Regions from separate parts of the Homo sapiens genome. Here region 2 is linked to region 1. The links come from fine-mapping of genetic effects on gene expression. A gene starts in region 1. The other region holds a variant in brackets. All regions are shown on one strand. Distances are between the middles of the regions.

The links. PIP is the estimated chance that this variant, and not a neighbour inherited with it, causes the effect. A credible set is the group of variants that fine-mapping cannot tell apart.
Region 2: its variant is the best candidate, but not a certain one, in a credible set for the expression of RTP1 in putamen (GTEx, PIP 0.77).

What each region holds. Positions count from the first base shown.
Region 1 is chr3:187,194,825-187,200,207 of GRCh38, forward strand. It overlaps RTP1 (receptor transporter protein 1), which reads left to right and starts at 2,662. Exons shown (of 2, transcript NM_153708.3): 1 at 2,662-2,963; 2 at 4,727-5,383. The coding sequence starts at 2,692. The coding sequence ends at 5,246. It overlaps LOC101929106 (a long non-coding RNA gene), which reads right to left. Exons shown (of 5, transcript NR_110052.1): 3 at 4,404-5,289; 4 at 3,703-3,878; 5 at 2,266-3,206.
Region 2 is chr3:187,172,010-187,177,392 of GRCh38, forward strand. No RefSeq gene overlaps it. Among named protein-coding and RNA genes, the nearest start is that of RTP1, 23 kb to the right of the region's middle. RefSeq lists enhancers at 3,054-3,885, 3,886-4,716, 4,928-5,383. The variant T/C (reference allele first, on the strand shown) is at 2,111.

The DNA of each region.
Region 1 (5,383 bases):
GATTTCAAGCTAAATATCTCTCTCAGCTCTAAAATATTTATACCGAGTATCAGGGGTCTGTGGACACCATTGCTTCATTAAGTTTGGCAGTAGAGGCAGCATCCCCAGCAGTAGCAGGGAGCCTGGTGGGTCAAGTACAACTCACCCCTCTTCTGGGGAGATGTGGCCTCAGTGTGGGGGGGCCCCAGTGAACCATTTGCTGAAATGATATAAACTTCATTTGCAATTCTTGGGGTCTGTAACGGCCACGTGAGTGATGAAGAAACACACATTTAATTAGCAGATGTTATGTTCTAGATTCCACGCTGAGCATCACAATGGCTAAAGCTGGGGCTTTGTAGACAGTCATATAGGTTTAAGTCCCAGTTCAACTAGTTATTAGCTGTTAAATCTTGTGCAAGTTATCTAACCTCTAGACTTTAGCTCACATATCTGTAAAATGGAGCTGCTGCTGCTGTTACCTACCTGTCAAGTTTGTTATTGAATGAAATAAATTAATATTTATAAAGCACCAGAACAATGCTTTCTAAGCACTTACCAGGTAAGTGCTGTATAGTGATTGCTATATAGTAAGTGCTATATGGTGATTGCTGTTACTATGCAAATTAAAATTATATTCACATAAAACATTAACACGTATTTTTTACTAGGATGAAAAGATACAGATTATATACATTAGAATTGCTACCTATGAGTCTATATGGAAATTTTTTTTTTTTTGTAAAAGCAGCCAGGCACGGTGACTCATGCCTGTAATCCCAGCACTTGGGGATGCTAAGGTAGGCAGATCACCTGAGGTCAGGAGTTTGAGACCAGCCTGGCCAACATGGTGAAATCCCATCTCTACGGAAAATACAAAATCAGCCAGGTGTGGTGACGCATGCCTGTAATCCCTGTTACTTGGGAGGCTGAGGCAAGAGAATCACTTGAACTTGGGAGGTGGAGGTTGCAGTGAGTCGAGATTGTGCCATTGCACTCCAGCCTGGGCAACAGAGCGAGACTCTGTAACAACAACAACAACAACAACAACACCACAACCAGGCAAGCCATTCTAAAGCCCCTGCTTTTAATCACAGCAGATACTGTTTTGTTATTATCCCACTGAGAAGATGAATAAACTGAGGTTAAAATAGTGTAAATCAAGGCATCAAACATCCATGAAGCGGCAGGAGAAGCACTTGGAAGATGGTTTCTGGTATCAGATGGGTGATTTTAAGTCCCTCTTTTTCATCACTAAACTTCAAGATCTGCTGGCTGTCCAAAATTCATACTGTTTGAAGAGCCTGCTCAGATTCTGCTAGCCACACCAAGCTTTTGGAGAGAGTGGAGTCAAGAGACGTGTTTTCCAATTGTAGGAAGTGTTGTTTCTAATGCATGCGATGAGCTTCGTCAACAAGTTTATACAAATAGATGGGAAGAGTGTAATGTGAGAAACTGAAATAAAACCAAAATGCCCTAAAAGACAGGATTGGCTAAATAAATTATGCCTATCCATATAACAGAATATAGGTAGCCCATAATGTACTACTACGGAATATGACCTAGAAAAATATTCATGACGTATTATTTTTTGAAAATGTCACAATGTGGTATATAGAATGTATGTGGTGTACAGAATGTGTGTGTATATACACACACATACACTTGTACATGTACAGAAAAATGGTAAGCGGGATGTACATATCGTAATGTTAACAGTAGTCATCTCGGGTGGGGTTTTATGGAAGAGTCTTACTTCTCTTTTCTTTCATCTATATTTTGTATTTTTTCTAGAATAAACCCATATGATTTTTTAAAAGGAAAAATAATTTATTAAAAATAGCAGCAGAGGCATGTATAGTAAAGGCTGTTTTGCCTGTGGGTGGTGCTCCTCTTCTGCGCTTCTATAATCAGCTTGGAAATAATCTTGTCTGCTCCTGCCTGGCTGATGCAATGCTCCTACCTTTGTGCACAGGTGGCTGTTCTTGCACAAGGCCATTGCAGCATGGATCCTATTGCACAGTTATTCAGTACACAGTCAGCTACAAGCACTGACATAGAGCTTGGCACATGTCTGCAAACCCTACCCACATGCTCGGATATGTTTGAAATGAATGAATTAATGAACCGGTCTGGGGTCAACAGCTTGAATTTGTATACAGGCTCCGCCATTTATAGGCTAGGTGAGTCCTAGGCTCCTGATCTGTACTGCAGCAATAGTAATCATAACTTAAGAGACCTCCAATTGTGTTTTGAAAATGGCAAAGTGCTGGTCACAAGATGGCTGGGGAAGCCGAGAGAGAGTTTATTATTATTGCTCCATCTACTAACAAATTTACATCTCCCCATCCCTCATTTCTCCTTGGCTGCCTAAGGCATCATGGTTACCGTAGCAGCCAGATGCTGATGATGCCTCCAGGGGACGGCAAGGTGAAACTGAGCCAGTTCCCAGTCCTCACCTCCCCATACTCTTTCCAGGCCAGGGTGAGATGGTCTGAAGCTCAATCTCTGGTCAGGTCCCCCACTCTGTCTTGGATCATTTAGACCCACAAACTCTGCCTCTGCAATCTCAGTTCAGGGCCTTGAAACACCTCTTCAGAGACTCCCTCCTCCCCAAGCTCTGTCTTCTGGCAACCTGCCTGGTTGCCGTGGAAACAGGTTCCACTGCGGACAAAGGAGGGAGCTGGGTCCTGCTTCCTCCTGGTCTTGTCGATGAGGATTTTTAGACCGTGGAGACTGCGCTGCCCTGCCCTGCACCTACCCTCACTCTCCGTGTTCTCACTAAGGTGGAAATTGCCTTCCCTCACTACTGACGAGACCATGTGTAAAAGCGTGACCACAGATGAGTGGAAGAAAGTCTTCTATGAGAAGATGGAGGAGGCAAAGCCGGCTGACAGCTGGGACCTCATCATAGACCCCAACCTCAAGCACAATGTGCTGAGCCCTGGTTGGAAGCAGTACCTGGAATTGCATGCTTCAGGCAGGTGAGTAGCCCAGGAAGGTGGATCCCTGCAGGCCGCCTCTAGGTCCCTAGCTCTGGGGCACCTTCCAAGGAGAGGAAGATTACGTAGAACCCAAGTGTTTAGCTTCAATCTCACTATTAGGCTGGCGTAGACTGGAAGTCAGAGAAAGAGTCCCTAACTGGGAACTACGACACTTGAGTTGGATTTCAGCTCTTCTACTGATCACCTGTGTTACTCTTCCTCTCTGAGTCACAATTTTTCCGTCTGGAAAATAAAGACATAGAATATACGTATGAGTCCTACACACTGACATTTTACATATTTTCTATTTTAACAGTCTCTTAAAAAGTAGTTTAAAACCAGAGAAGAAGGGTTTGAGGCCCACTGGGGGTCGAGACGTCCGTGCTCTGGTCCTGGGACCGGTTTAAATCTATTTAACTCAACTTAATTTCACTTAAAATATTGAATACATGAGATGTGCCAGAAACTGGCTCTATCATTGGCTCCATGGCTGTTGAGGAACTCGATTTTCTTCTTGGACCTGGCTTTCTCCTTTTGCACAGTGAGAGGTTAGCCTGTGGTCCACAGAGCAGCAGGATCGGCATCACCTGGAATTTGTTAAGAAAGCAGAATCTTGGGCCCCTTTTAGATCTGAATCAGAATCTGATTTCAAGAAGAGTTCTAGGTGATTAGTATGTAAAAACTATCTGAGATGAATTTCTAGCACTCTTGTTCATGGGTCCAGAGTGTAGGGGCTTACCTTTGAGACATAAGATGGGGAGGCTGAGTGGTGCAGCCTGGAAGTCAGAAGCAAGGCCTTCCTGCTTGCCCTGGTTCAGCCAATTCACTTCAATTCAGGAAACATTACTGGGCACCTGTTACGTGCTGGGCGCCGGTTCTGCCTCTAGCTGTGTGTACATGGATGCCTCTCTCACTCTGTCTCAGCATAAAAGAAAACATTAATTAGGTGATTTCCAGGTCCCTCTAGTTACGACATTTTTCAATCCAGGTTTTGTAGTCTGGTCTGAGAGAGGAAACAGTCCCCAAAAGATGTGTGAACAAGAAGAGAATGAAAATGTGAAGCTCCTAAACTGGCTGACAGGAGGGGTGTCAAGGGCTGGACACTTACAGGCAGGATCAGGAGCTTCTTGAAGACCTGGAAGGCTGTGGGGGCTGAGTGGGGAGGGCTTGTGGCTGCCCCAGACCTGGCTGGGGACCTGTAATCCCCAGCTGGCCCCAGTCAGGCCTGGGAGACTACAGGCCTTGGGGATCTGGGCACAGACTGCCTCCACCTCCAGGCCTTGTGATGCATTAACTCTGACACTGGCCTGGACGTTGATAGCTAGTAATGGTGTCATTTTCTCCTAATTTGGATCTAGCCTGTTCACAGTCAGTGTTAACAGATAGAAATGTGCAGATGGATTATGTGTTTCTTATCTGGTGTGAGAAGGAAGGACTCACCTAGTGCACCAAGCGCATTTTGCCCATGAGGAATAAGAATGACGCCCAATGCTGGGGTGGTGGGAGTTAGGCCTCTGGAAAGCACTGAGGAGGTAGAGCACTGCTGGATGCCCGGTGACATCCTGAGGAACCTGCTGTAGTCCTAGGGGCACTTGCAAGGCTGAGTGGCTTCCTGGGGAAAGCTAATGAACCCAGGGCGCCGGCAACACACTTCCTCCACCTCCAGGCTCTGCTTAGCCTCCACGTCCCCTCACGCCATTCCTAGGGCTGTTTCCACCACCTCCGCCCGTCTTCTATTCCTCCCTCTCCTCCCGTCTCCGCAGGTTCCACTGCTCCTGGTGCTGGCACACCTGGCAGTCGCCCTACGTGGTCATCCTCTTCCACATGTTCCTGGACCGCGCCCAGCGGGCGGGCTCGGTGCGCATGCGCGTCTTCAAGCAGCTGTGCTATGAGTGCGGCACGGCGCGGCTGGACGAGTCCAGCATGCTGGAGGAGAACATCGAGGGCCTGGTGGACAACCTCATCACCAGCCTGCGCGAGCAGTGCTACGGCGAGCGTGGCGGCCAGTACCGCATCCACGTGGCCAGCCGCCAGGACAACCGGCGGCACCGCGGAGAGTTCTGCGAGGCCTGCCAGGAGGGCATCGTGCACTGGAAGCCCAGCGAGAAGCTGCTGGAGGAGGAGGCGACCACCTACACCTTCTCCCGGGCGCCCAGCCCCACCAAGTCGCAGGACCAGACGGGCTCAGGCTGGAACTTCTGCTCTATCCCCTGGTGCTTGTTTTGGGCCACGGTCCTGCTGCTGATCATCTACCTGCAGTTCTCTTTCCGTAGCTCCGTATAAGATTCCGTGGTTGGGCCCAGAGCCTGTCGAGGGTGCCAGTTAGCTGATGCGAGGGTAGAGGAGAGACGTGGGTTGAGAATAGTGTAAACTTCTAGCGCTGGTGATGTCACTGACTCAGTGGGGATCTTGGACAAATT
Region 2 (5,383 bases), 23 kb before region 1:
TTTAAAGTCATTTGAAATAATTCACCATTGAGTAAGCCACAGATTTCATAATGTTAGGTTAATTTTTTCCCCAAGTTTTCAGAATTTTTAAAAATTCAATTTTTTTGTTTTATAATTATGTAAAAAATAACATGGACCCAAAACAACACAACACAACAAAGCACATTTAGAAATATCTGTGTTCTACCTGTGTCTCCTCTACCCTGTTCCCTCCTCCCCAGTGAACAATAATATTCCTTAGTTTTTAACTTATCTTTCCATTTATTTTTAATATAGTCAAATATGTATCTTTCATCCTTCGAGGAAAGGTAGCAATCTTTATATACAGTTCTGCCCCTTGGTTTTTTCTTTTCCTTTTTTTGTTTTTTAGTTGAGAGGCTATCCTGGATATCACTCCATAATGGTTTATAGAGATTATCCTCATTCTTTTGTTTAGCTCCATAGTTCTTTACTGGGTGGTGTTTCATATTTTATTCCTCTTGTATCTTACCATAGGTAAGGTATGCCGTACAGTTTAGGTTGTTTCCAATTCCGACTGCTACAAACAACATAGTACTGAATAGCGATTTGTGTATATCATTTTCTGTTTTTGTCAACATATGTTAGGCATAAATTTCTAGACATAGGATTGCTGGGTCAAAGGGAAATGCATGTATTATTTTGTTAGATATTTTTGACTGTTTTAAAAATAGAACATATTATTATGTTGTATGCATCTTTGAAAGCTACTTTAAACTTTTTTATAAAAAGAACATTGGGGCATAAATTACTTTTAATATTTATTATAATAATAATATGAAGCACTAAGTAACATACATTTATAATTATATAAATATCTATCTTTTATAGGCATAAGACTCTGTTATAAAAATTAATATTCATCAGGGATTATCCACAAATTTCCCTTTTCCCCCCACTCCACCAAAGTGAATGCAATTGCTGGATGGACCTTTCCCCACTCTTCCACATGCTTTTCTCATCCCTCACTCCCTACATTTGTCATTGCTAGACCAGTCTCTACAGACTTTTGTAAGAATGGATCAAGAAGGATTTTATGGCAGGGAGAATGACCCAGGGAGAAAGTTGGAGGGATAGGAGGTGAGAAAAGTGGAGGCGAGGGAGGCTGAAGGTGAACAACATGGTGGAGAGGGGGAGGCAGCAAACGAAAGGTGCTGGGGGACACAGAAGGGAAGAAGTAGAGGGGAAGAGACATAGGAATATGAGAAGTGTTGCTACAACTTGTGAGTCTGATCCACTCTCATCTTCTTTTGGAAAAGCAAGTTAATAAAATTCTTCTATAATTGCTTTTCTGGCTCTTATACTGTGTATCTTGAACATGACACCACATAGAGACTGATCTATATGGACTGTGACTTCCATAGGGCATCAAGTCTTCATAATGAAAACACCTGAGAGTTTACAGATAATACAATACTGAGATTTAAGTTGGCTGTTGGTGTGAAATAAGTTATGTATGAATTAATATAAATGCTGTAGCCTGTGTACTAACTGAAGCCCACCCATATCCCTATAATGTAGGTATGCCTCTTTCTAATTATAAGCAGACCTACAAGGCAAGACTGAGTCACACCAGATGTCCACTTACATCTTAATGCTTGAGTCCAAGTCTTCTGGCATAAAATTATATAGATCACAGGCAAAATATCTAAAAAAGAAGAAAAAAACCCATAGCAACAGAAAGTAAAATCTGATTGTTAGCAAAGCCAATGCATTAGCTAAACAGAATAGTCCGGGGCATCAAAATGTTAGCAAGCATGGCTGCCCTCTAAGGAGAAACTGAGGTCAGGTTGCCCCAGATCAAAGCCCGAGGAGAAGACAGATCCTGCCGTGCACAGAATTCATTCACTGGAAAGAAGCCTTCTGGGCCAAGTCCCTGATGGCGTTGAGAGCTGACTGGAAATGCATTCCCTGAGAGAAGGGTTTTGTAATCCTTGATTTAGTTTATTTCAGTCTGTGGAAAACCTTGTTGCTGAATTCAGGATTCTTTCTTCCAGAGAAGATTTGGGCTTGTGTTTGCAACAGCCTTGGACAGCTACAGACCTGCAATTCCTTTAATCCCTTTCCTTGTGTCAGGCATAATCCGGGAACC[T/C]GAGTTGATTCTGCTCTCCCTCTGCTCAAAGTCCAGCTCTGGATTGTTGTGTTGATATTAGCATTTGCCCTGAGGGCAGCTCCCTCTTTTCCTGCTCACTGCTGTGGTTTCACCTCAAGGTTTTAAGAGTAAATGTAAAATTTCCATATATTTATCTCCTTTATCCTCATAAGAACCCTGGGAGATAGCAATAATTACCTGCCTCCCTCCAGCAGCCAAAAGAGGGAATAAGGCGTTAGAGGATACCAACTCCTTGAAAGTTACAGGCCCAGTTAAGTGGTGGAGTCAGCTTTGTCTGCCTCACTCCAAAGTGAAAGTTTTTGTTTTTTTTTTTTGACAGAGTCTTGCTCTGTTGCCTTGGCTGGAGTGCAGTGGCGCGATCTTGGCTCACTGCAACCTCCACCTGCCGGGTTCAAGCCATTCTCCTGCCTCAGTTATGGCCTTCAAAAAGCCACTTTACTGTTTCTCCTCATTTCAGTCCAGACTCCGGGCTGCCAACCGTCTCTTTTTAAAACATGGGAATGTACCATCATTCTAACCATCCTTGATATTCCATCTCTACTTCCCACCGAAATGCGTAAAAGCACATTTTTTTTTTTTTTTAAGAGATGGAGTCTCGCTCTGTCACCCAGGCTGGAGTGCAGTGGCCTGATCTCGACTCACTGCAACCTCCACCTCCCGGGTTCTAGCAATTCTTCTGCCTCAGCCTCCCGAGTAGCTGGGATTACAGGTGCATGCCACCACGCCTGGCTAACTTTTTGTATTTTAGTAGAGACGGGGTTTCAGCATGTTGCCCAGGCTGGTCTCGAACTCCTGAGCTTAGGCAATCCACCTGCCTTGGCCTCCCAAAGTGCTAGGATTACAGGCATGAGCTACCACACCAGGCCGTAAAAACACATTTTGCCACAGCATTGAGAATTAAAGATGGCAACAGACCACTTGCCAATGTCTGGAAAAATTCTCACTAAGTGAGACATGGAGGAGCTTCGAATGACAAACTTTCGGGCGATAACACTCACTTTGACCTGTGAAACAAAATGGCAAGGCTGGTCATGACGATGTCAAATAGCAGATTTGACACTCCCCTCCCCCTATTCCTCTCTCTAGGCCATGCCATCCCCGGTTTCTAACTCGCCACAACCACTGAACAAAGCAGTTGTCTGGGGTGGGAGGAAAACAGCAGTAGGGTCTGTCAGTTTCCTCCCAGCATGAGATGTAAAAACAGCCTAGGCATGGCTGAGTGTGGTGGCTCACGCCTGTAATCCCAGCACTTTGGGAGGCCGAGGTGGGTGGATCACCTGAGGTCAGGAGTTCGAAACCAGCCTGACCAACATGGTGAAACCCTGTCTCTACTAAGAATACAAAAATCAGCTGAACATAGTTTTCACGCGCATCTGTGTGAAGAGACCACCAAACAGGCTTTGTATGAGCAACATGGCTGTTTATTTCACCTGGGTGCAGGCGGGCTGAGTCTGAAAAGAGAGTCAGCGAAGCGAGATAAGGGTGGGGCCGTTTTATAGGATTTGGGTAGGTAAAGGAAAATTACAGTCAAAGGGGGCTTGTTCTCTGGCGGGCAGGAGTGGGGGTCGCAAGGTGCTCAGTGGGGGGTGCTTTTTGAGCCAGGATGAGCCAGGAAAAGGACTTTCACAAGGTAATGTCATCACTTAAGGCAAGGACCGACCATTTACACTTCTTTTGTGGTGGAATGTCATCAGTTAAGGTGGGGCAGGGCATATTCACTTCTTTTGTGATTCTTCAGTTACTTCAGGCCATCTGGGCATATAAGTGCAAGTCACAGGGGATGCGATGGCTTGGCTTGGGCTCAGAGGCCTGACTGACATTCCTGCCTTCTTATATGAATAAGAAAAATAAAACAAAATAGTGTTGAAGTGTTGGGGCGGCGAAAATTTTTGGGGGGTGATATGGAGAGAGAATGGGCGATGTTTGTCAGGGCTGCTTCAAGCGGGATTAGGGGTGGCGTGGGAACCTAGAGTGGGAGAGATTAAGCTGAAGGGAGGTCTTGTGGTAAGGGGTGATATTGTGGGGATGTTAGAAGAAACATTTGTCGTATAGAATGATTGGTGATGGCCTGAATATGGTTTTGGATTAATTGAGAAACTAAATGGAATAACAGAAGGAGAAAAACAGGTATAAAAGGTCTAAGAATTGGGACGACTCAGGATATCTGATTAGAGAGTGCCTAAGGAGATTCAGCATAGTCCTGCCAGCAAAGATTATTTATTTACTTCAAGAGTTAAGAGTGGCAGTTTGGGGATACCACCAGGAGATATCAGCTGTGATGGCTTGGAAAAACAGTGTAAACCGGCAGTGTAAACAAGAGCAGGGCATGTATGAGTAGTTGAGAATGGTGAATAGGAGTATGACTAGACAGAAGATAGTAGGGATGACAAGTTTTTTTGGGGGCACAGTCTAAGTTGGTCTGGTGTCTGGAATGAGACTGGGGCCTAATAAAAAGGAGCGTCTATACAGGAGCTCAAATGGGCTGTACCTTGTAGCATTCTGACGACAGGTCTGACTTCTGAGAAGGGAAAGTGGTAAAAGTATTGTCCAGTCCTTTTCAAGTTGGTGGCTGAGCATGGTGAGGTGTGTTTTTAAAAGACCTTTAGTCCATTCTACTTTTCTTGAAGACGGAGGACCGTAAGGGATATAAAGGTTTCACTGAATACTAAGAGCCTGAAAAACTGCTTGGCTGATTTGACTAATAAAGGCTTGTCTGTTATCAGACTGTATTGAGGTGGGAAGGCTAAACTGAGGAATTATGTCTGACAGAAGGGAAGAAATGACCGTGGTGGCCTTCTCAGACCCTGTAGGAAAGGAATCTACCTATCCAGTGAAACTGTCTGCCTAGACTAAGAGGTATTTTAGTTATCTGACTCAGGGCATGTTGAGTAAAGCTAATTTGCCAGTCCTGGGTGGGGCAAATCCTTGAGCTTGATGTGTAGGGAAGGCAGGGGGCCTGAATAATCCCTGAGGAGTAGTAGAATAGCAGATGGAACACTGAGAAGTTATTTCCTTGAGGATAGATTTCCACGATGGAAAGGAAATGAGAGGTTCTAAGAGGCGGGCTAGTGGCTTGTACTATAGCATAACCTGCCTTTGCCGGTTTGTGGCGATTAGGCCTGGTGGAACTGCCATCAATAAATCAAGCATGATCAGGGTGAGGAACAGGAAAGAAGGAAATTTGGGGAAATGGGGTGAATGTCAGGTGGATCAGAGAGATACAGTCATGGGGGTCAGGTGTGGTATCAGGAA